Regions from separate parts of the Homo sapiens genome. Here region 1 is linked to region 2. The links come from fine-mapping of genetic effects on gene expression. A gene starts in region 2. The other region holds a variant in brackets. All regions are shown on one strand. Distances are between the middles of the regions.

Region 1 (12,418 bases), 100 kb before region 2:
TCCCCCCGTGTTCCGCTCCCAGCGTCCTTCTTCCTGTCACGAGCAGGGCTTCTGCATTCTCTGCGGATTCTAGTCTCCCTGCATCCAATTGCTTCCAAGCTCCTCATTACACAGCACAAACTTTACTCTCATTCTTTTCACCCCTGATTCTTCGGAACCCACACCAACTCGCGGCCCGTTGTGAGTGGTATGACACAGAGAGACCTGTCCCCCTTTCCCAATCCCTACCTCCGCTTGTACTCGTCCCGCTCCCGCTTCACTTTGGCCAGCACGTTGTAGAGAGCGCGGATCTCGGGCGTGATGGTGTCGATCTGGACGCCCACCCCATCCGGGTGCACCCACGACAAGCCAGGCCCTTGCACCAGAGTGGGCTCCAGTCCCGGCCCGAGCCGGCGGGCGTGCGAGAACGACCAGATGGTGCCGGGCATGAAGCGGGCCGACGAGGAATAGGTGGTGGAGGTGGAGGTGGAGGACGACGAGAGGCTGGCCGCGGAGGGCGCGAGGGGGCCGGCCGGGGAGCGCGCGGGCGAGCCCAGCACGCGCGCCGAAGGGCTGCAGACAGCGGCCGGCCGGGCGCCCAGCTGCAGCCCCAGGGGCCGGATGGGGCTGACGAAGCCGGTCTGCACTGCCTGGTCGCGACGACCCAGGCCCCGCCGGCCCTGCTTACCCTCCTCCAGCGCTTGCTGCAGTTGCTTCTCCAACAGCCGGTTCCGGCGCTCCAGCTCATGCACCTTGGCCAGGAAGCAGCGGAACCGGAGGTTCAGGGTCTTGAGCACGTTGATGTTGGAGCCCAGGTCATTGCGGAGGGCCATGGCGGCAGGCGGGGCCGGGCCCGGCCCGGGCGGCGAGTAGGCAGCAGGGCCGGCCGGCGAGAGAGGCGCCGGGGGCAAGTCTCCTCCCCCGGCGAAGTGGTCGCCTCCCAGTGAGTCCCCCAGTGGCCCGGCCAGGCCCTGCTGCTCCTGCTGCAGGAGGAAGAGGTTGGGGCCGAATAACGGATTCATGGCTGCGCCTTCTGCTGGGAGATGCAGACCGGTGCAGGAGCAGGGATGGAAGGCGAGCCAGAAGAGCCAATGCGGCGCCGGCGGGACAGAGCCGACCAATCAGGCGGCTCGGCAGCGGGGCAGAGGTCAGGGGGCGGGCCGAGGGGAAGCCAATGACAGGCTCCAATTGGAGGCCGGACCCTGGACCTTTCCGGGTCTGAGGCCGAGCCCTGTGATGAGGGGAGCCACCGCCTGGACTCCAGCCGGGGTGGCGTAAAGCCCAGGACCTCCAGTACCCCATGGGTTCTGGTGGCAAGCCCATCTCCCCTACACGACTTTTTTTTTTTTTGAGACCGAGTCTCACTGTCGCCCGGGCTGGAGTGCAGTGGCGCGATCTTGGCTCACTGCAACCTCAGCCTCCCAGGTTCAAGCGATTCTCCTGCTTCAGTCTCCCGAGTAGCTGGGATTACAGGCACCCGCCACCACACCCGGCTGATTTTTTGTATTTTTAGTAGAGACGAGGTTTCGCCATGTTAGCCAGGCTGGTCTCGAACACCTGACCTCAGGTGATCCACCCGCCTTGGCCTCCCAGAAAGTGCTGGGATTACAGGCATGAGCTAGTGTGCCCCGCCTTCCCCTACACTTCTATTGCCCTCCTCTCCCCGGAGTTCAATCACCCCTAGCTCTGACTCCAGGGCTTTCCCTTCCTGGGAAAACCCAAGGATGCAGGAGCCTAAAACTGACCTTATTTCTCAGTAGCACCCAACCATTCCCTCTCCTCAGAAGATCCCAGTCCCACCTCCCATCTTTACCCTTAAAGCGGCAAAGGCAGCACCCAGTTCCCTCAAAAATACTCAGTGGCCAGAGGTTTTAAAATGTGTATTAAATTTCATGGGTATGCACAGTAGAGAAGGCATCCTCACAGAGGCAAGAGTTCCAACCTGGTGACAATGGCAGTGAGCCACCCGTCTAGTTTTCAACCATCTAAGATAGCAGCAGCTGGCTGTTGCCCCTGGACTGAGATTTCTTCCTCTTTGCTGGTGGGGGGCGGCTGGAACGGATGGGAGACACAGTGGGAGGCTGAGGCCCCTTGGGGGTATCATTCTGTTTCTGGAAGGCAGCTTTCTCAAAAGGCTGCTCTGGCAACTGCTGCTTCTCAACCCCCTTGGCCCTTCCAAGGGGCTGATGATGGTCCTTAGGTTTCAGGGTGGCCTGAGTCTTGGATGGGGATAACACAGCCGGTGTTTGTGTGTCTGTGCCCTTGGGAGGGGCATTCTGCCTGAGGAAAGCAACTTTCTTGGAGGACTGTAATTTAGGTGATCGTTGCTTTAGCTTCCCAGTCACCTTTGGCTCCCTGATCCCTTCGGCTTTTCCAGCTGGCTGACTGCTATCCTGGAAGCTGGAGGAAGCTTGGGTCTTTGTGACAGAAGGTACAGTGGACAATTCTGAGTCTGCCCCTTTGGAGATGCCATTCAGCTTCTGGAAGGAGGCCTTCTTGGGATGTTGCTGTTTCTGCAGCTGCTGCTTTGTCTTTGCAGCCCCCTTGGCTTTCTTGGCTGGCTGGCTGCTGTTCTCAGACTTGGGGATGACCTGAGGCAAGTCTACATTTGTAGGTGTGGCTGTTTCAGAATTTCCTGGGGTTAAAATTAAACAGATGGTGTCAGAAAATGGGCCTTATCACCATATTTTAATATTCTCATATTAAAATATGAGAATTGCCATTTCCTGGGCAGGAGCTCCACACAATTAGGTCAGTGCCTAAGAGCAGATTACCTAAATTCCCATTACTTAATATAACTTGGCCTTTACTCAAGTCCTAGTTGAACCTTGTATTAAAAGATCACTGCCTATAGGCCAGGCGTGGTGGCTCACACCTGTAATTCCAGCACTTTGGGAGGCCAAGGCAAGTGGATTGCTTGAGGCCAGGAGTTCAAGACCAGCCTAGCCCACATGGTGAAACCATCTCTACTAAAAATACAAAAATTAGCCAGGGATGGTGGTACACACCTGTAATCCTAGCTACTTGGGAGTCTGAGGCACAAGAATCGCTTGAACCTGGAAGGTGGAGGTTGCAATGAGCTGAGATTGCACCACTGCAGTCCAGCCTGAGCGACAAAGCAAGACACCGTCTCAAAAAAAAAAAAAAAAAAAAAAAAATCACTGCCTATCCTTGGGCCAAAAGGTTTCTACAGGAAGCTGCGCCCTCTTGAGGACAGGAAGTAACAAGATGCTGTAAGGAAGAGGTGATTCTCAGGGTTTTGGGGTTTTTTTTTTCTTTTTTTGAGATGGAATCTCACTCTGTCACCCAGGCTGGAGTGCAGTGGTGTGATCTCGGCTCACTGCAACCTCTGCCTCCTGGGTTCAAGCAATTCTCCTGCCTCAGCCTCCGGACAATCACAACCGTGCGCCACCATGTCCGGCTAATTTTTGTATTTTTAGTAGAGATGAGGTTTCACCATGTTGACCAGCTGGTCTTGAACTCCTGACCTCAGGTGATCCACCTGCCTCAGCCACCCAAAGTGCTGGGGTTACAGGCGCGAGCCACCACGCCCGGCCTCGCAGGGTCTTCTAAATGAATTTGAAGCACTAGGCTTTATTTATCTTTTTTTTTTTTTTTTTGAGGTAGAGTCTCACTGTGTTGCCCAGGCTGGAGTACAGTGGTGCCATCATAGCTCACTGCAACCTCAAACTCCTGGGGCTCAAGGGATCCTCCTACCTCAGCCTCCAGAGTAGCTGGAACTACTGTCTCCCTTTGTTGCCCAGACAGGTCTCAAACTCGTGGTCTTAAGCAATCTTCCCACCTCAGCCTCCCAAAGTACTGGGATTTATAGGCATGAGCCATCACCACACCTGGCCTATTTATTTTTTAAATCAGAGAAGTTTCTTTCCATGTGAATTGTGATGAAGTGCGGGATAATTAAAATATGTACTTTTTAAGTTATAGCAAATTTTACTATTCCTTTTTTTTGAGATGGAGTTTTGCTCGTTGCCCAGGCTGAAATGCAATAGCGTGATCTCGGCTTACTGCAACCTCCACCTCCCAGGTTCAAGTGATTCTCCTGCCTCAGCCTCCTGAGTAGTTGGGACTACAGGCACGTACCACCACACCTAGCTAATTTTTTTTTTTGGAGACGGAGTCTCACTCTGTCGCCCAGGCTGGAGTGCAGTGGCACAATCTCAGCTCACTGCAAGCTCCGCCTCCCGGGTTCATGCCATTCTCCTGCCTCAGCCTCCCGAGTAGCTGGGACTACAGGCGCCCACCACCAAGCTCAGCTAATTTTTTATATTTTTAGTAGAGATGGGGGTTTCACTGTGTTAGCCAGGATGGTCTCGATCTCCTGACCTCGTGATCCACCCGTCTTGGCCTCCCAAAGTGCTGGGATTACAGGCGTGAGCCACCGTGCCTGGCCACACCCAGCTAATTCTTATATTTTTAGTAGAGACAGGGTTTCACCGTGTCGAATTCCTGACCTCAGGTGAGTGCTGGGATTACAGGCATGAGCCACCACGCCCAGACAAATTCTACTATTTCTAAAGTAGCACTTCTCTCCCTCTTCCAACTAAACCCAGGGTTATATCCCAGTAAGCAGTGCTCTCAAGGCTGTTTCAGAAAACCCCACCCTTCCCTTGAGATCCAGGCCAGACTCCTCAAGATGGCTGAGAAAACAATCTGCAATGAGTGTGAAGGGCTCAGAGAACTGCTGACAAAGCTCTGTGGAGCTCTGTTCCAACCCAGTGCTGAGATTGCTGGACCAGCAGAGGTCCAGTACCAGTAAGTCCACCCTGTGCCAAGAAGGAAAAGAAACCACAACCTGCATTTGGAATGCATTTAGTGCTGAACAACTGCAGCCACTTGGCAGAATAAAGGAACAGGCCTCCATCCATATGAACACTTTAGCCTGTTCACATGGGGTCCAGCACTCAAAAGCAATTCTAGCTGGAATGAGAGGGTTCTCTCAGCCAAGCATGCAAAGGCTGGAGTAAGGGATGCATGAATCTTTCCTTTCCCTTCCTCTTGTCACACCATAAAGCCTCCTGAAAGGTGGAAAGAGCAAAGGTGGTGACGAAGGGAAGAAAAAGATTACTTACCTGTCTGGGACTGAGGGATAGAATTGGAAAATTTCTTGAACTTGGCAATGAAGAACCCATCCATATTGTGGGTATGAGGGTAGAAGCGTCGGGTAGAACGCAGACTGGGGTGGAAGCGCCTTTCTCGAAAGCGGGTAAAACCTTCCTGGCCAAAGTCTAGGCCCGTGGGCACCAGTCGCACATTCCTCTTTTTCAGAGCATAGTCTACCACCCACTCATTCTCTTCTACCTGGATGTGGGGGGAAGACAAAGAACGGAGGAAAAAGCAGAGCTGGAGCTGAAGGGAGCTCTAAGGGGCAAAGAGCCCCCCAGCCCAGCCTCCCCTGCTCTGCCATGGCAGAGGTCTCACTGTGATAGAACAGGTGCAGTAAACCAGGTAGCCTCCTGTCTTGGAGGTCGCATTGACAGAGTCAATAGCACTCAGGAGCAACTCCTTCTGGAGGTGAGCACAGCGCAGGATGTCCTTCTCATCCTGTCCCAAAAAGAGACCCAAAGGCAGCCTCAGGAGGAGAGGGGAGCCCAGAGGGTGTCCCCATCTCAGTTTCCAGCTCTACGAGACCCAGCCAAGGCCTCTCAGGGGCCCACCACCTGACTCCTCACCTTGTTAGTCTTCACGGCTGGATCCTTGGAGATGACCCCAGTGCCACTGCAGGGAGCATCCAGCAGTACTCGGTCAAAGCCCCCCACCACCTGGAGAAAAGATACAGATGAATCATATGTCTCTTCTGCAACCAGCAGGGCAATATTTACTAGGGTCGAGTCTAAACATTGAGGTCAGGAAGGGAGAAGGTCAACCGGAAGAAGCCTCAGAAGACACACAGCTCGAGTCTCACCTTGGGGAACTGGCGCCCATCATAGTGGCTGATAATGGTGTTGGTGACTCCCAGCCGATGCAAGTTGCCCACAACACTCTTGAGCCGCTCAGCATTGGCGTCATTGGCAAGGATCACACCCGTGTTCTTCATCAGCTGGGCTAAAGAGAGGGCAGTAACAGTGCTGATCAGCCAGTTCCACTGTCTCCACACTTGCTCCCACCCTCCTGTCCAGGAATCCACATGAGAAGTGTCATCACCTCAAGGCA[A/G]CTTCGCTCCCAACAAGCCTGCCTACTGTATAGGCTGATCCACTCTGCACTAGCCCCTGGTGATCGGCAAGTCTACCGATGTGGTTTTCCCATTTTTACCAAACACCTATGTGGTCCTACATACTAAATTACTTCTTTTAAGTGACAGCAGCTTAATAAAAGTTATGGCTGCTGACTATGTGCTGAACACTGCCAAGGACTTCTAAACGCATCATTTTAACCCTCACAATCCAAGCGTAATACAAGGGCCAACCCAAGCACAATTACCATCCCATTTTATGGATGACAAAAGAGAATCCATAGTCAGATGGGTAGTAAGTGGCACACTGGAACCCAGGCCGACTCCAGAAACTGGTCCTCACCACCCTGCTAGCTACCTGCACATTGTGTTCCATGAGCACTAGTGAGTCAGCAACCCCAGCAACCCCATCTACTTTCAAAAGCAAGACAGCCCGATGAATCCCACCTGCCTGCCCCTCTCATACCCATGTAGCTGGTCTTTCCTCCAGGGGCACAACACATGTCCAGGATCCGCTCATGTTCCTGGGGTGCCAAGGCCATGACGGGCAACATGCTGGAGGCTCCCTGCAGCATGTAGTGCCCAGCCAGGTACTCGGGGGTAGCACCTGTGGAGAAGGACCACCCTGTGACATGCGGTAGGGACAGGGACAGAGGTAGAAGGGCTCTTGGGTGGGGGAGACTTACCAATGGGCACAGAAGAATCATACACCACTAGTCCAGTCTTTGACCACTTGCCCAGGGGATCCAGGTTAACCCCACGATTGATTAGAGCCTGAAAAGGGATGAAGATTTTTTTTTTTTTTTTTTGAGATGGAGTCTCACTCTGTTGCCCAGGCTAGAGTGAGGTGGCGCAATCTCGGCTCACAGCAACCTCCACCTCCCAGATTCAAGCGATTCTCTCGTGCCTCAGCCTCCTGAGTAGCTGGGACAACGGGCATGTACCACCATGCCTGGCTAATTTTTGTATTTTTCATAGGATGGGGTTTCACCATGTTGGCCAGGCTGGTCTCTAACTCCTGACCTCAGGTGATCTGCCCGCCTCGGCCTCCCAAAGTGCTGGGATTACAGGCGTTGAGTCACCGCGCCCGGTAGGGATGAAGATTTTAATAACCTCATAGGCTACTCTACCCAGAAGACAGATGAAGACATTAAACACATGCTTCATAAAAACATGGCCCATACCCCACAACTCCTATAGTGCTTACTCCAAACACAGTCATCATGGAGTCATTGAGCAGTTTCTCTCTCCCACTCCATCCTATGGTGCCCTTTTTTCTTAACCTCAGGCTCCTAACTCAAGATCTGAACTTCATCCCAATGGAGCAGGATGCCACCTCCTGTTACTTTATTTCCTAGAAGTGGCATCTGATTTTCTAAGAGGCTGAGCCCCTCCACTATACTAAAAATTTAATGACATTGGTTATACCACATTACATTATTAGGTTTTCTTCACACCAGGAAATATACAACACATATAACCCAACAACTGACTTTACAACAGGGGTCTTTAACCTGGGGCCCCTGAACCCTTGGAAATGAGTTTAAAATATTGACTGTGCATATGTGTCTTTTTTGTGCAGTCAGGAATCATATTTCCCCAGCTCCTCAATGATCTCCCTCCAATTTCCTTGGGGGCAGCACGCTCATCCTGAAGTCTCATCATCCTAGTCACAGGGAGCAGAGTATGAACTTCCCATTCCACAGAGGTCCTAGGCCCCCAGATCCTATCCTGCCAGAGACATCAGGCCTCTGGGTTTGCCCCCCCAGGATCATGCTTAGGTCCTAAGGCCCCACCCAGTCAGGGTAGCACAGAGGAATCTCTGGAGTTGGCAGAAGTCACTTCCCTTCTGAGATGAGTGAGCCTCAAAGGCCACCCCTCACCTGTGCAAGGTCTCGGCGTCGGGTTTTCAAGGTATTGGTCCGGAGGGTGACGGGCCGAGGCACCTCATTAGCTTCTAAGAACTCCACCAGCTGCGGGGCAAGACAGCAGGGAATAAGTGAGGCTGGCTAAGGAGCTCAGTCAGAAGAGGGGAGCAAGGGGGCCGAACATCTTCCTTACACAGCGTAAGGAGGCGAGAAAAGAAAAGCAAAAGAGGCATTCTGGCAATCCAGTACCTCAGACAGAGGGAAGAGGTCCATGAGCTTGCCAAGCAGGAAGTCTCCATAGGAGTAGTAAATGGCCAGATCCTTCTTGAGCCGGTTCAGGTATTCAGAACGAGACCGCCCTTCCTCCCGCTGAGCCCCAAAATCACGCAGAATTCCCACAATATCCTGGATCCGCTTGTGAACTCGTTGCAGGTCTGGAGCCTGGGCATGTGGGCCTGTTAAGGAACTGTGTCATGATGTCCTAAGGCCTGGAAATCCCTCTCCCAACCACCTTCCTCCTAACTCTTCACTCTGCCCTGCAAGGATATCCTGCTCCATCTCCCCAGCAGGGGGCAGCACAAATGGTTCCTCATCCACATTGATCTGCAGGCCCCCATCTGCCTCTTCCACCTTTGGGGGGCCTGACTCAGGGGTCACTTCTTTCTCTTCCTCCTCGTCCTCGGTCTCCTCTTCACTCCACTGGATCCTAGAAACAGGTCCAGGAACAGAGTGATTCACAGACCAAAACAGATACCTCCTCCTTCCTCACAGCTTCCCCACCCCAGTGGCTTCCTATGCTCCATCCCAATAGCTTCCAAAACTCACCCAGCAGCAGCTTCCCGGGCCTTCTGCTTCCGAGCAGCTCTTTCAATGGGCAGCAACTGAAGAGAGACAAGGGCTATTAATACAGGCCTGCCCTTCCATCAGCCCTTGTAGCAGTTCTATCTCTATATCTTATTTTTTCGCTAAATAAAAATCCAACACTTGCTCTCAGAAGGAAATAGAGGAGCAAAGAAATGAAAATAAGATGGGCGCAGCATTGCTCACTGTTGAAACTAAGTAATGAGGGCATGGTGGCACACACCTGTAAATCCCAGCTACTTGGGAAGCTGAGGCAGGAGAATTGCTTGAACCCGGGAGGTGGAGGTTGCAGTGAGCCAAGACCGAGCCACTGCACTCCAGCCTGGGCAACAGAGAAAGACTTCATCTCAAAAAAAAAAAAAAAAAACCTAAGTAATAAATTAAAGGGTTCATTACATTTTTCTTTCTACTATTATGTTTTTCACTTTTCCATTAAGAAAAAAAAAAAACTTGAAAAATACCTGGATGTATAAAGAAGGACAAAAATGGCCCTTGACTACCATTCTGCCATATTTTTTTTGAGAGAAGTCTCGCTCTTGTCCCCCAGGCTGGAGTGCAATGGCGCGTCTTGGCTCACTGCAACCTCCGCCTCCCAGGTTCAAATGATTCTCCTGCCTCAGCCTCCCAAGTAGCTGGGATTATAGGCGCGCACCACCATGCCCAGCTAATTTTTTGTATTTTTAGCAGAGATGGGGTTTCACCATGATGGCCAAGCTGGTTTTGAACTCCTGACCTCAGGTGATCCGCCCACCTCGGCCTCCCAAAGTGCTGGGATTACAGGTGTGAGCCACCGTGCCTGGCCCATTTTGTCGTTTTTTTTTTTTTTTTACTTACTCTGTATTTTTCACATAATCCATTTTCAAGTTTGTTTCTTGCTTTTTAGACTTCAGTTACATCACAGGCATTTTCATAGACATAATGACCAGTGTAACTGCATCATATGCATGAACCATAACTTACTTAAGCATATTGTGTATTTTGGAAGTTTCCTGAGTTTTTGGCATTATGATCCACATGGTGCCTGCAAACCTAATAATGACCCTGTAGATACAAGGGGATGTAGGAAGGGGGTGCACATGGGGACCTTCTCTTTTTATTCTATACGATTCTAATAATACATCCACACACTAATTGTATAATAACTTCCTGCACCTCAGTAAAGAACTATTTGCTGACATTTTGGATCATCTTCCTTAATAGGGAATTACTATGTCAAAAGGAAGCAGTTATTTTTTTTTTTTTTTTTTGAGACAGTCTCACTCTGTCACCCAAGCTGGAGTGCAGTGGTAAGATCACAGCTCACTGCAGCCTCAACCTCCCAAGCTCCAGTCATCTTCCCGCTTCAGCATCCTGAGAAGCTGGGACTACAGGCGTACGCCACCACACCCAGCTAATTTTTAAACCATTTTTTAACTTAACTTTTTTTTTTTTTGAGACAGAGTCTCACTTTGTTGCCCAGGCTGGAGTGCAATGGCATGATCTCGGCTCACTGCCATCTCCGCCTCACAGGTTCAAGCAATTTTCCTGCCTCAGCCTCCCAGGTAGCTGGGATTACAGGCATATACCACCACACCAGCTAATTTTCATATTTTTAGTAGGGATGGGGTTTCGCCATATTGTCCAGGCTGGTCTCGAACTCCGGAGCTCAGGTGATCCGCCCACCTTGGCCTCCCAAAGTGCTAGGATTATAGGCATGAGCCACTGTGCCAGGCCAATTTTTTAATTTTTTGTAGATACGGGATCTCCCTATGTTGCCCAAGCTGGTCTCCAATTCCTGGGCTCAAGCAATCCTCCTGCCTCAGCCTCCCAAAGTGCTGGGATTACAGATGTGAGGCACCATACCCAGCCAAAAGGAACAAATTTTTCAAAGTTCTGAGATAACTGCTTTATAAAAAGTGCATTTCTGTGCCCATCAGTGGAGCACACCATTGTCCACCTTCCCATACCTACACCAAGACAGCCTTCTAGATTTTTTTAAATGCTCTATCCTACAGCTCTTTCAAACTTGTAGTGCACTGGGAGGATATAAGGCAGTAGGGAAACAGTGATGGAGCACAAAAACCCCTTTCCTCTAGTCAGGCTTATCCTTGCCACTAAGAAACAGTCTCAAGAATCTGGGAAAGAAACTAAATAGCAAGGATCCTTCTATGAATGCCCAAAAAGATGAATCTCACCGCTTCACCTTCCTCCTCATCCTCAGAGTTGGAGTCAGCTCCATAGTCATCTACCGTATCAGCATCGTCCTCGGAGCCCCAGAGGTCCCCGTGGTTCACCATACCATCTTCTTCAGAGTCTTCCTCCTCCTCTTCCTCATCACTGCCAGGTGCTGGGCGCTTCTTGCCTCGAGGAGCATTAAATAGGGACTGGGGTCCCTTCTTACCAGCTGTCTGGACAGCTCCTGCAGAGATCCCTAAGGGTTTGAAGAGTCCTGGACTAATGGCAGCCACACATTCCCTGGCCCCACACCCTGGGAGCCTGTACTTTCTACCCCTCAGAATGTCCTTTGGCTGTTCCTTTCACTCCGGAAATGTTTAGCGAGTTCTTCCCTACCCAGGACCCAAAGGGACTCCTCATGTAGCATCCAGCTCTTAGTTTCACGGACCTTTTGGTAGCTTTCCAGGCAATGGTTTGGCCTCAGGAGACTTATTTGTCTTAGGGGCTTCAACAGAGCCCAATCTCCTCTTGGCTGCCCTGAAAAGACACAAGAGATTCAAGGAGTGAAGAAATGGGAAGATACTTCCAGGCTCTGCCATTTCCACCATAGGGAAATGTGAGAGTCTAGAATTAACTCTGTGGTCAAAGATGAGCAGTACCAATTTAACCTACTTAAGTTTTGACACCCACACTTACCTCTTTCGAGCACGACTAGACAGCCTCTTGGAATTTTCGTCACTTACTGTTTAAAAAAGAAAAACGAGGCAGAACAAGTTACAGGGGACATTAAAAATAAATGGGAACGGAAATAAACATGGTAAGAGAATTAGTACACTAATTAAAAGGAGTCCATTTAAATCTCAGCCCTGTTATTATTTAATAACTGTATACAAGTTTCTTTTTTTTTTTTGAAATGGAGTTTCACTCTTGTCTTCCAGGCTGGAGTGCAATGGCGTGATCTCAACTCACTGCAACCTCCTTCTCCCAGATTCAAGCGATTCTATTGCCTCAGCCTCCCATCACCACACCCAGCTAATTGTTGTATTTTTAGTAAAGACAGGGTTTCACCATGTTGGCCAGGCTGGTCTCGAACACTGGACCTCAGGTGATCCACCTGCCTCGGCCTCCCAAAGTGTTTCCTTAATAGTGCCTCTCTCACAGGACTCTAAGATGATTAAGCGATATAACATGACCAACAAGTTTAATACAGTGCCCAGGACTTCCTACTATCTCAATAAACTGCATCCTTTATCCAATGCCCAACACAAACTCCCGGTCCAGTGTTACCTCCCACCAGTCTTCCACACAGTATACTACTACTCGGCATGAAGCAGCCAGATCCGTGCTTTTCCATTTCCACCCCTTC
Region 2 (12,418 bases):
TATTCAGGAGGCTGAGGCAGGAGAATCACTTGAACCTGGGAGGCAGAGGTTGCAGTGAGCCAAGACTGCACTACTGCACTCCAGCCTGGTGACAGAGCGAGACTCTGTCTCCAAAAAAAAAAAAAAAAGCTCTTCCCTTTCTTTTCCTTTTTTGTTTTTTGAGACGGAGTCTGGCTCTGTTGCCCAGGCTGGAGTGCAGTGGCACGATCTTGGCTCACTGCAGCCTCCACCTCCTGGGTTCAAGTGATTCTCCTGCCTCAGCCTCTGGAGTAGCTGGGACCACAGGCGCGCGCCACCACACCCGACTAATTTTTGTATTTTTAGTAGACACAGGGTTTCACCATTTTGGCCAGACTGGTCTTGAACTCCTGGCCTCAGGTGATCCGCCCGCCTTGATCTCCCAAAGTGCTGGGATTACTGGCATGAGCCACTAAGACGGGCCCCTTTCTTTTATTTTCCATCTCTGCCTCCAAGCTCTTTGTCCTCAAATTACAAATAGTCTCCTGGTATCCTCTATTATACACATAACACTTCCAATCTACTTCCATATAGTAGCCAGAATGTCCTTTTTAAAAAATGCAAACCTGGCCAGGCACGGTGGCTCATGCCTGTAATCCCAGCACTTTGGGAGGCCCAGGTGGGCGCATCAGCTGAGCTGAGGAGTTCAAGACCAGCCTGGGCAACATGGTGAAACTCTGTCTCTACCAAAAATACAAAAACTTAGCCAGGCTTGGTGCACATGCCTGTAATCCCAGCTACTTGGGAGGCTGGGGCACAAAAATCCCTTGAACCTGGGAGGTGGACATTTCAGTGAGCCGAGATCACGCCAATGCACTCCAGCCTGGATGACAGAGCAAGACACTGACTCAAAAAAACAAAAACAAAAACAAACACAAAAATAAAAAATGCAAACCTAATCAAGTCACTCTCCCGCTTATAACCTTCTGGTCACTTCCTACTGCTCTGAAGATGTTCTGCGCTTTCTGGCCCTTGCTTACCTCACACCAGCCTGAACTCATGTCAGTCTCCCTTTGTGCTCTGCTTTGCCCATACTGGCCTCCTCGCACTGCCTCAAACTGGCCTGTGCTCCTCCTGCCATTTGGCTTTCCACATGCTGTTCTCTCTAGTTGGAATGCACCGCTCGCTTTTCCTCATCCCATCCACCCCATCCCTCTTGGCCTATTAAATTCCTGTTCGTTCTTCCAAAGTTCAGCTCAAACTCAACTTTCCCAGACTCTGTTAACTGCCCTCGATCTATGTCAAGGTATTCTAGCCACCTTTTTAAAGCACTTATCCAACTGTAATTAAATAAATGTGTAATTAGTTGGCTGGGTGCGGTGGCCCATGCCTGTAATCCAGCACTCTGGAAGGCAGGTGGATCACTCAAGGCCAGGAGTTCAAGACCAGCCTTGGCAGCCTGGCAAAACCCCATCTCTACTAAAAATACAAAAATTAGGGCCAGGCACGGTGGCTCATGCCTGTAATTCTAGCACTTTGGGAGGCCGAGGCGGGTGGCTCACTTGAAGCCAGGAGTTCAAGACCAGCCTGGCCAACATGGTGAAACCTGTAATCCCAGATACTTGGGAGGCTGAGGCACAAGAATTGCTTAAATCCGGGAGGTGGAGGTTGCAGTGAGCTGAGATCGCACCACTGCACTTCAGCCTGGGTGACAGAGTGCGACTCCATCTCAAAAACAAAACAAAACAAAAATTAGGCCAGGCGCGGTGGCTCACACCTGTAATCCCGGCACTTTGGGTGGCCGAGGAGAGCAGATTACGAGGTCAGGAGATTGAGACCATCCTGGCTAACATGGTGAAACCCCGTCTCTACTAAAAATACAAAAAAATTAGCTGGCCGTGGTGGCGGGCGCCTGTAGTCCCAGCTACTCGGGAGGCTGAGGCAGGAGAGTGGCGTGCATCCAGGAGGTGGAGCTTTCAGTGAGCCGAGATCGCTCCACTGCACTCCAGCCTGGGCGACAGAGCGAGACTCTGTCTCAAAAAAAAAAAAAAAAAATAGATGGGCATGGTGGCCTGTGGCTGTAGTTCCAGTTACTCAAGAGACTGAGGCAGGACAATTGCTTGAACCAGGGAGGTAGAGGTTGCAGCCCGGGCAAAAGAGCAAGACTGTTTCAAAAAACAAAAAAATTAAAAAAAATAATGTGTAATTAGTTATTTGGTATCTGTCTCCCCAGGCCGAACATGGCTATCATATTCTCTCCTGTTTCCATAGTGTTTAGAATTATGACTTGCAAAGAGCAGGTACTCAGTAAATACTTGAATAAATGCATGAATATTTGTCACCCCAGTACAAGAGAAATCTCTTGCCAAGACTCCACCTAAAACTTTAAAAATGCCTCTACTTGCTGGGCACAGTGGCTCACGCCTGTAATCCCAGCATTCTGGGAGGCCAAGGCAGGTAGATCGCTTGATCTCAGGAGTCTGAGACCAGCCTGGGCAATATGGCCAGATCCTGTCTCTATAAAAATTAAATATATATATAAAAAATAAAAGGCCTGGTACGGTGGCTCATGCCTGTAATCCCAGCACTCTGGGAGGCCAAGGTGGGTGGATCACCTGAGGTTGGGAGTTTGAGACCAGCCTGGCCAACACAGTGAAACCTCATCTCTACTAAAAATACAAAAATTAGCTGGGTATGGTGGCGGGCACTGTAATCCTAGCTACTCAAGAGGCTGAGGCAGGAGAATCACTTGAACCCGGGAGGCAGAGGTTGCAGTGGGCCAAGATCGCACCATTGCGCTCCAGCCTGGGTGACAGAGTGAGACTCTGTCTCAAAAACAAACAAACAAACAGAAAAACTAAAATAAAATAAATAAAAAAAAATAAAATGCCTCTACTGTTTAAACCTACAACTTCAGGTCTGCTACCACCAGTTCACAAGACTGAGTCACTGGTGATTTACCAAATCTAATGGTGTTATTAAGCCTATCCTAAAAAATATCTCTGCAGCAGTTGGCATGATCTTTTCTCCGCTGAGTAACTTTCTTTTCTTTTCTTTTGAGGTGTAGTGTCGCTCTTGTCGCCCAGGCTGGAGTGCAATGGCGCAATCTCAGGTTCAAGGAATTCTTGTGCCTCAGCCTCCCAAGTAGCTGGGATTACAGGCGTCTGCCACCACGCCCAGCTAATTTTTGTATTTTTAGTAGAGACGGGGTTTCACTATGTTAGCCAGGCTGGTCTTGGAACTCCTGACCTAAGGCGATCCACCCATCTCAGCCTCCCAATGTGCTAGGATTATAGGCGTGAGCCACCGCTCCCAGCCTTTTTGTTTTTGTTTTTTTTTTGAGGCGGAGTCTCACTCTGTTGCCCAGGCTGGAGTGCAGTGGCATGATCTCGGCCCACTGCAACCTCCACCTCCCAGGTTCAAGCGATTCTCCTGCCTTAGCCTCCTAAGTAGCTGGGACTACAGGGGCACACCACCACACCTGGCTATTTTTTTTATTTTTAGTAGAGACGGGGTTTCACCATGTTAGCCAGGCTGGTCTCGATCTCCTGACCTCATGATCCGCCTGCCTCAGCCTCCCAAAGTGTTGGGATTACAGGCATGAGCCACCGTGCCTGGCCACCAGCCTTTGTTTTTTTTTTTTTTTTTTTTTTTGAGAGGGACACGGAGTCTTTCTCTGTCACCCAGGCTGGAGTGCAGTGGTATGTATGATCTTAGCTCACTGCAATCTTCACCTGCTGGGTTCAAGTGATTCTCCTGACTCAGCCTCCCAAGTAGCTGGGATTACAGTCACATGCCACCATGCCCAGCTAATTTTTTTTTTTTTTTAAAGTAGAGACTGGGCTTCACCATGTTGGACAGGGTGATCTCAAACTCCTGACCTCAAGTGATCTGCCCGCCTTGGCCTCCCAAAGTGCTGAGATTACAGGCATGAGCTACTGTGCCCAGCCTGTCTACCTCACTTTCTAAGCAGGAAGAAGCCACCTTAGATTCTTCCTTCTCTCTCAACCACTCAGTCATTCAGTCAGTCCTTTCATATTTAACTCCTAAATACTTCTGTAACTCCCTAAAATCAGGTTCTTATCTCTGTCCTGGAATGTTATCACTAATTGATCTCTGTTATCAACAATATCATGCTCCAATTTACCATATATTAGTCATTTTCCTCTATAAAAATCATACTCTACTTTAAAATGCAAACTTCTTCGTTTGGCTTAAAAGACCTTGTCCAATCTAGCCTCAGCCTCTTTCTCCAGTCTCCTTTCTCAATTTCTTACCTTAGATTCATAAATATCAAATACGCTGACCTCTGAGTCATAAATATCAAACACCCTTGACCTTGCCACAAACCCATCACAGTACCTTTGCGGATGCTTTCCCCAACCTGGAATTCCTTTTTTCTCTCCTCACTGGCAAATAACCTTCAAGACCCTATTCAAACATCACCTCCGCTGTAAAGCTTTTCCTACATCCCCAGGTAATTACCCCCCTTTTCTCCAGGGTTGCCTACCAAGTGTCCTTTTTAATGTATTTCCATTATCTCACTTGTCACAGTGTTTTATAATTATTTGCAGAATCTGTTTCCTACTAGATCGTGAGCTTCTTGAGGGCAGGAGCCTTGTCTTACTCATTTTTCTATCCCTAGTGCCTGCCATTATGTCTGACCCATAGCAGGACCTCAATAAATATTTGTTGAATAAATGACTCCGGGCCCTAAAACAAATGTAAGCGCACAGAGCAATAGGCTTTCTGCAGGGGTGGTTTACATAAATCGCATAAACACCAGATTTTCATTTGATGGGAATTAGATCTTTACTCCATGAAGAGAAGCGTTCTAGTTCATCATCTGACAGTGGTCACTCATCACCACCACTCTCAACCCCATGAGAAGCCACTTTTGAGGAAGAATGGAGTGGAGGAGAGGTCTTTACCGCTTCTCCAAATGGCAGTGTGTGATAACGATTCTGAACGACTATGGGGAAAAAAATCTACCGAGGCTGGAGACCCTGGAGAATGGGGGCAGCAACTATCTTCCTGGCCATGCACACTAGCCCTTCAAGACACGTCTCTAACCCCCACACCGCACCCCTCCCTCGTCTACACCCATCAGCGGGGCCTCGATCCTGCTGCCCCGCCCCCTCTTTCTCCGCACCCTCCAATATTTCCTGCCACAGAACCGCTTCATAATTGTGACCTTCTCGTCACTGGAACTTAAGGGCTACAGATCCTCTCATCCCTGATCCCCGCACCACTCTGCAGCCCCGACCCCCACCTCCAGCCTGCTCTTACTGTCCAGATAATGTTCCAAATACATCCCCGCAGCCATCTCGAAGCAAAACAAAGCAACTTCCGATCCGCCCCGGAAGTGACTGTAACGCGACAGGGGCCGAAGCCATTTTGCGGCTAAAGCCTTTCCGCCCTTAAAAGGAGAACTTCCGCCCTTAAAAGGAGAACTTCCGCCCTTAAAGGAGAACTTCCGCCCTTACTATATTACCGCCGGTACACATCCGCCCGACACTGAAACTTTTCCTTTTGCATGGTAGCCACGACCGCCCACAGTGAGGCGGCTGTAGCCCGCTTCCGCCCTTACAGACACCCCAGGACGCGACCGAGACAGGTATGACGTCACTGGAGGTCGCCATTTTGCATTCTCTAGCAAACTTTTTTCCCTCCAAAACGGGAATGTATGGTAATCCGTGCAGGGGTAACTGTTCACTTTAGGCTCATATTGCGTAAACATACCTTCTCAGCAACTGGAAGATCCAACTTTTTTTCCCTCTTTTGCAGAATGACTTTTTTCAAGCCAGTTAGTTTCTTAAGGAAGTTGGGGAAGAGTATCAGGCCTTGAGACATTTAAACCGTCTGAATTTCTATTCACTCACACAAACACCATCTCCCCCAGCATTATTTTTTTAACTTGAGAAAGATGATCACCTTTCTACTTATAAATACAAAGAATGACTCATAATAAAGCTATAATTCTGCACATCTTTTGTCAGAGCTCCTGTACGTTACACTAGAATACACTTTCACATATAAAATATTACTTCCTGCCTTGCCCTCTTGCTTTTTTTTTTTTTTTTTTGAGACAGAATTTTCACTCTTATTGCCCAGGCTGGAGTGCAATGGCGTGATCATGGCTCACCGCAACCTCCACCTCCCGGGTTCAAGTGATTCTTCTGTCTCAGCCTCCCGTGTAGCTGGGATTACAGGTATGCACCATCACGCCAGACTAATTTTGTATTTTTAGTAGAGATGGGGTTTCTCCATGTCGGTGAGGCTGGTCTCGAACTTCCGACCTCAGGTGATCTGCCCACCTCAGCCTCTCAAAGTGCTGGGATTACAGGTGCGAACCACTGTGCCTGGCCCCTCTTGCTACTCTCTAAGGGGGAAATCTCGTGTTTTTGTTTTCCTTTTGTTTATATGTGATGTTAGCATCATAATTCTGAAGGGATTGAGGGATGCAGCAGTATCACTACTGGGCTAGTTGGCTAGTTAGTTGCTAGCCATCACTCTAGTCAGCTATGGTAGAGTGATTTCTATGGTTTTCATCAGAATGGGAAGCAGTCAAGGGTATGAGAGGCTGCCAACACACTAGGCTGTCAACACACTGCCAACACAAAGGCCATAACCTAATAGTGGTGTTAGTAAGATAGTATTTTAGAGATAGCTGCCACCCCTCACACTTTTCGTACCCTCACACATCCTTCATAAGAATTACCAATGTCTTACGGCAAGTTTTTAAAGAGACAGACTTTCAGCTATATAATTTCTACCAAATATGTGGAGAAGAGGAACTTCCAACCCGGGGCGGATTGGAAGTTGCTTTGTTTTGCTTCGAGATGGATGCAGGGATGTATTTGAAACATTATCTGGACAGTAAGAGCAGGCTGGAGGAGGGGGTTCAGGGGCTGTAGAGTGGTGGGGGTATCAGAGCTGAAAGGATCTGTAGCCTGTAAACCCCAGGTTTACTAGTGTGCAGGTAGTAAGATACAGCAATAGAATCCGGGAAACTGCTCTAATTACAAAAGTCATGCTTTTCGGTAACTTGATCTCTGTGCCTGTTTTACTATACAATGAGACTACTACCTCCCTCATAGGGTTGTTGGAATAAGTGAGTGTGAGTGTATCCATAAAAAGAGTAGATTCTAGTTCTAATACTGGTGATGAAGTTAGGGCCATTAGGGCCTTTTCAAGAGTTGGTGAGAGTGGGAGGAAAAAGCAGTAAATATGCAGGGAGCTAAGAAACATTGGCATATTTGGTCATATGTGATACATTCATTGGTATTACACAACATATTGAGACACCATCTTAGGTGCCCACACAGGATATCTAGCACTAAATTAAGTGGGCTTTATTTATCCCAGCCCAACTACATAACAAGTACTATTGGCCAGCAGTCCCAGAGTTCTCAGGATGTGGGAGCTTGGTCACAACTTTCACAACTTTTTCGGTGCTTAAAGCAAGGTTTTTTTTTTTTTGTTTTTTTTTTTTTTTCCAGACAGAATCTCGCTCTGTGGCCCAGGCTGGAGTGCAGTGGTGCAATCCCGGCTCACTGCAACCTCCGCCTCCCAGGTTCAAGTCATTCTTCTGCCTCAGCCTGCAGCTGGGACTACAGGCGCGTGCCACCACACCTGGCTAATTTTTGTATTTTTATTTTACTTTTTTGAGAGAGAGTCTCACTCTGTCGCCCAGGCTGGAGTGCCATGGCACGATCTTGGCTCACTGCAACCTCTGCCTCCTAGGTTCAAAAGATTCTCCTGCCTCAGCCTCCTGAGTAGCTGGGATTGCAGGCGCCCACCACTATGCCTAGCTTATTTTTTGTATTTTCAGTAGAGACGGGGTTTCACCATACTGGCCAGGCTGGTCTCGAGCTCCTAACCTCATGATTCACCTGTCTCGGCCTCCCAAAGTGCTGGGATTACAGGCGTGAGCCACCGTGCACGGCCATCAATTTTTGTATTTTTAGTAGAGATGGGGTTTCACCATGTTGGCCAGGCTGGTCTTGAACTCCTGACGTCAAGTAGTCTGCCTGCCTCGCCCTCCCAAAATGCTGGGATTACAGGCGTGAGCCACCGCACCCAGCCTTAAAGCAAGTTACTTAATTCTCAAAAAAGGTATCTTCAGAGTTATCTAGTCCAATCCCTTCACTAACAGTTGAAGAAGCACCCTGGCCAACACTGGTTGATGGTAGGCAAAGGGCTGAAGTCCAGGTTTCATGACCACATTCTACTCCATAGTACTACAGCTCTCCTGCATAAATCAATCTTGCACCCCTTAACCGGTTATGATTTCCACAAGGTAACAAATACACATATGTATACACATTGCCAACTGCAAGCCCCTCTTCCACAGACTCAGGCAGGAGTGTAGGTCCTTTCAAGAGGCTTCCATTTTTCTTCCATAGGGAGCTTAGCTGTTTTGTTAACACATAACCAAAGCCTTGCTCTCACATATTTAGGCAATGCAATCCCCATGACAGAATGTGTATGTAGAAGTCCTCATAAACCAGGATTTCACTGGAGACATCATGAAACTGTACCCTTCCATGACTGGAGAATTGCACAAATGGGGCATCATCACACAAGCACTTGTTCATCACACACACACTCTGGTATAAATCCTCAGTACTGTTCTTGGACATCTCCCCAAATACCTTTTCCGCATGCTCGCTCACATCAGTAGCTCCACTGCCTCTGATCCTTTTACATGAATTTATTTCTATACAATGTTCTAAAAACACCCCTTGGTTTGTACATAAGTTTTTTTCTTTTTTTCTTCATTTTTAAATTACTTTATAACAACTGGTTTCCTGATTTTTTTTTTAATTTCCTTTCCTCTGAAATCTGCCATGATTTAAAAAAAAAAAAAAAAGACAAAAAGAAAAATGCTGTGGCTAGAGGACAGGGGTGGAGAGAGGGAAAAAAAGGACAAAAATAAACAAAACATCAAATATGAAAATTCTCAGAGATAATGCATTTATAAACACAGAAATGGTTACAACAAAGATGGCCGTGATGAGTGAGTATAATATATTTATATATATATATTTATATATAAATCCGTGTCCGGCATCTGACTGTGGCACCTAGGGAGCTAAGTCCAGTCCTTGCGTTTGCCTTGAACTCTCCCTTCTCCGCAACACCCCTGTTTTGGAGTTTCACAGATAACACAAAGCCTCCCACAGCTCCTTGGGGGTGGGTTGGGGAGACTGAGAGTATAGGGTCTTTGTAGGCAGAGAAGGAGAGAGGCTTCAAGGAAATCCGTAAAACCATAACACACACTTCTAAGCCACCTGTGACCAACTTGGGAATTTCTGGCCCCTTGGGGACCACATCTCAGCCCTTGCCCCCTTCAAATAAAAGGAGGTCTAGCCCCTACCCCAAATCTCCTTCTACCAGCAGTCAATAGGAAGCAAAGTGAGACGATGTAGGGGAAGAAATGGCTCTCAGGGACTGAGGCATTTGAGAAACCTCTGTTCTTTTGCAGGCAAGAATAGAACAAGAGGCTGGTTGCATTTGGGGCTCCCTTTTCTCTGTTATCTGGGAGGGCCAGCCTCTAGTCTTACATCAGCCCAAACTTTGAGGATAAGGAGGGTAAGGATAGGGTAAGTGGCCACACTGGACAAGGTTCTATGAGGTCATAGCAAATCCTTCCCTTGAGCACCGACCCCCAGTTTTAGAAGCTTTGCTTGGGAGGGGAGGCTGCTGGATGACACCATCAGCTCAGTATTCCTTTGCAATCAGGAGGGCTGATGTTCCTTTTGAAGAAGAGTTCAGAAAAAGGATGGTATCCTGTGAAGGAAAGCCGTGACAGAGGCCCAAGGAGATGGAGCCAAGGCCTGTCAAGGAAGAAAAGGACTTTTCCCACCAAGAGTTGGAGAAAGAAGACACCAGGACTACTTCTTCCTCTTCCCAGTGGGTGGCAGCACGGATCTCTAAGAGCTGGCCAGGTGCTCCACCTGGATGGTGCTGGTGGTGACAGTGAGGCAGATGTCCTTATGATGCTCCGCCGTCTTATACGGGGTCAGGTCAAAGGAACACTGGGGTGGAGGGTTGGGATTGCTGTCCCCACCACCCCCACCCTGGGGGGCTGCCCCAGGAGACTGGAAGTGTGGTGGTGGCTGTTGCTGCTGCTGCTGCTGCTGCTGCTGCTGCTGCTGCTGCTGCTGTGATGCCTGGGAGGCCTGGGCCTGGGCCTGGGCTTGAGCCTGAGCCTGAGCCTGGGCTTGAGCTTGAGCCTGGGCCTGGGCCACTGCTGCCGCTGCTGCTGCTGCCTGCACCTGTTGCTGAAGATCAGGCGGGTTGTGTTTGCGCATATGTTTCATAAGGTATGTTTCCTGAGGGAGATGGTAAAAAGAAGTTGAGGGATAAAGAGGAAGGAAAAGAGATTACTTGTAACTAGCACCCCAGGCTCTGATTCTGCTGTAAGCAGAGTAAGCTTTATACTGGTTTTCTGGAGCCAAGACTGAGCAAAACTCAAGTAGCACTTTCAGTGGCTCACTACTGAGAAAAAAAAGAGAGGAACCTTTAGAAGTCACTCAACATTCAACTGGCAAAGGAATGAGCTGCTATTTTTTTCAAAGACCCCTGAATGAAACAACTTTACAACCTTTTCTGGAGTCTCATGGAAAATATCTAACTGGGCCAGGTGCGGTGGCTCACACCTGTAATCCCAGTACTTTGGGAGGCTGAGGTAGGTGGATCACTTGAGGTCAGGAGTTTGAGACCAGCCTGGGCAACATGGTGAAACCCCATGTCTACTAAAAATACAAAAAGTTGCTGGGCATGGCAACATGCACCTGTAATCCCACCTACTTGGGAGGCTGAGGCAGGAGAATCGCTTGAACCCAGGAGGTGGAGGTTACAGTGAGCCGAGCCGAGATCACACCACTGCACTCCAGCCTGGGTGACAGGGCGAGACTGTGTCTCAAAAAGAAAAAAAAAAAAAAAAGAAGAAGAAAATGCCTAACTGAAATCCAGCTCCCCTCAAAATTTCAAGTGGCTTTATTTTGCCTTATGTTTAAGTAAAATGAAGAATTACAGCTTATGCGTCTCTATAGGATTAGGAGATCAGGCATCCCCTAAATTCCTCAGAATGGGTCTAATTAATTTCTGAATATTTACCTGTTCTGCTAAGTTGGAGCTAGGGAGGCAGGGTATTCACTGCAACAGATCTCTACCCAGAAAATGGGGTGAAGTGGACTGTACTCTTAGAGGACTATGAGGAAGGAGAGAAGAAACGGAGCACTCACTGATGTGTATGCCCGACTGCAGATAGTGCAGGTGTACACCTTGGCATGCTTCACTGTGTGCGTAGACAGGTGCACCTCTAGTGAGGCTGCATCCGTGTACGCCCGATGACAGTTGTGGCACTTGAAGGGTTTATCTTTGTTGTGTTGCCGTCTGTGGGACTGAGAAAATTGGGAGAAACCAGAATGAATACATTGTACTCTTTCCTCCTGCCCCCTTGACCTCGATGGAAAGCAAAAAGGTAGGTGTCAGGCCTCCCAGCTTCTCCCTCTATCTGAAGAAAGTAGAAATTGTTTCAAATGAAACTTGAGAAGCTACAGGCTAAGGGTGGAAGCATACCTCATGTAGCACATACCAGGATCCCAAGACAGCTTATGCCCGTCTCACCAGTCCAGTGGTTCTTAAAATGAGGCATGGGGATCTTTAGGGAACACTAAGACCTTCACAGGGGGCCCACAGGGTCAAAACTCTTTTTTTTTTTTTTTCCCAGATGAAGTCTCTCACTCTGTCGCTCAGGTTGGAGTGCAGCGGCACAATCTCGGCTCATTGCAACCTCCGCTTCCCGGGTTCAAGCGATTCTCCTGCCTCAGCCTGCAAGTAGCTGGGACTACAGGCACATGCCACCAGGCCTGGCTAATTTTTTTTGTATTTTTAGTAGAGACAAGGTTTCACCGTGTTGGCCAGGCTGGTTTCCAACTCCTGAGCTCAGGTGATCCGCCCGCCTCCGCCGCCCAAAGTGCTGAGATTACAGGTGTGAGCCACCGCGCCCAGCCAAATCTTTTCAAAATAATAAGACAATGTTTGCCTTTGTCTCTCTTGAACCTGGGAAGTTGCAGTAAGCTGAAATCACACCACTGCACTCCAGCCTAGGTGACCCAGCGAGCCTCTGTCTCAAACACGCACACGCGCGCGCGCACACACACACACACACACAAACACAAAGATGAAAAACCTAACTGAAATCTTGTTCCCCTCAAAATTTCAAGTGGCTTCATTGTGCCTTATGTTTTACATGTAACCCTTACAGAGGTTACATGATGTGTGATAACACAATAGGCCAGATGCAGCAGATCTGAGAATCTACTCATCTTCTAGCTTAAGACATTAAAGACCCCTGTGCCAGGTGCGGTGACTCATGCTTGCAATCCTAGCACTTTGGGGAGGCTGAGGCGGGAGGATGGCCTGTGTCCAGGAGTTCGAGACCAGC

The links. PIP is the estimated chance that this variant, and not a neighbour inherited with it, causes the effect.
Region 1: its variant is fine-mapped to the expression of ING4 in whole blood (INTERVAL, PIP 0.94).

Annotation. Positions count from the first base shown.
Region 1 is chr12:6,555,029-6,567,446 of GRCh38, forward strand. NOP2 (NOP2 nucleolar protein) reads right to left here. Exons shown (of 16, transcript NM_001258308.2): 3 at 11,749-11,794; 4 at 11,501-11,589; 5 at 11,073-11,308; 6 at 8,863-8,918; 7 at 8,586-8,743; 8 at 8,287-8,486; 9 at 8,053-8,142; 10 at 6,856-6,943; 11 at 6,636-6,776; 12 at 5,903-6,042; 13 at 5,670-5,759; 14 at 5,419-5,541; 15 at 5,070-5,298; 16 at 1,843-2,614. The coding sequence ends at 1,965. IFFO1 (intermediate filament family orphan 1) reads right to left here and starts at 1,014. Exons shown (of 10, transcript NM_001193457.2): 1 at 229-1,014. The coding sequence starts at 1,001. RefSeq lists silencers at 452-631, 742-981, 1,032-1,191. The variant A/G (reference allele first, on the strand shown) is at 6,151.
Region 2 is chr12:6,657,818-6,670,235 of GRCh38, forward strand. It overlaps ING4 (inhibitor of growth family member 4), which reads right to left and starts at 5,302. Exons shown (of 8, transcript NM_016162.4): 1 at 5,248-5,302. The coding sequence starts at 5,284. ZNF384 (zinc finger protein 384) reads right to left here. Exons shown (of 12, transcript NM_001385745.1): 11 at 11,214-11,372; 12 at 8,660-10,298. The coding sequence ends at 9,897. RefSeq lists an enhancer at 5,273-5,332.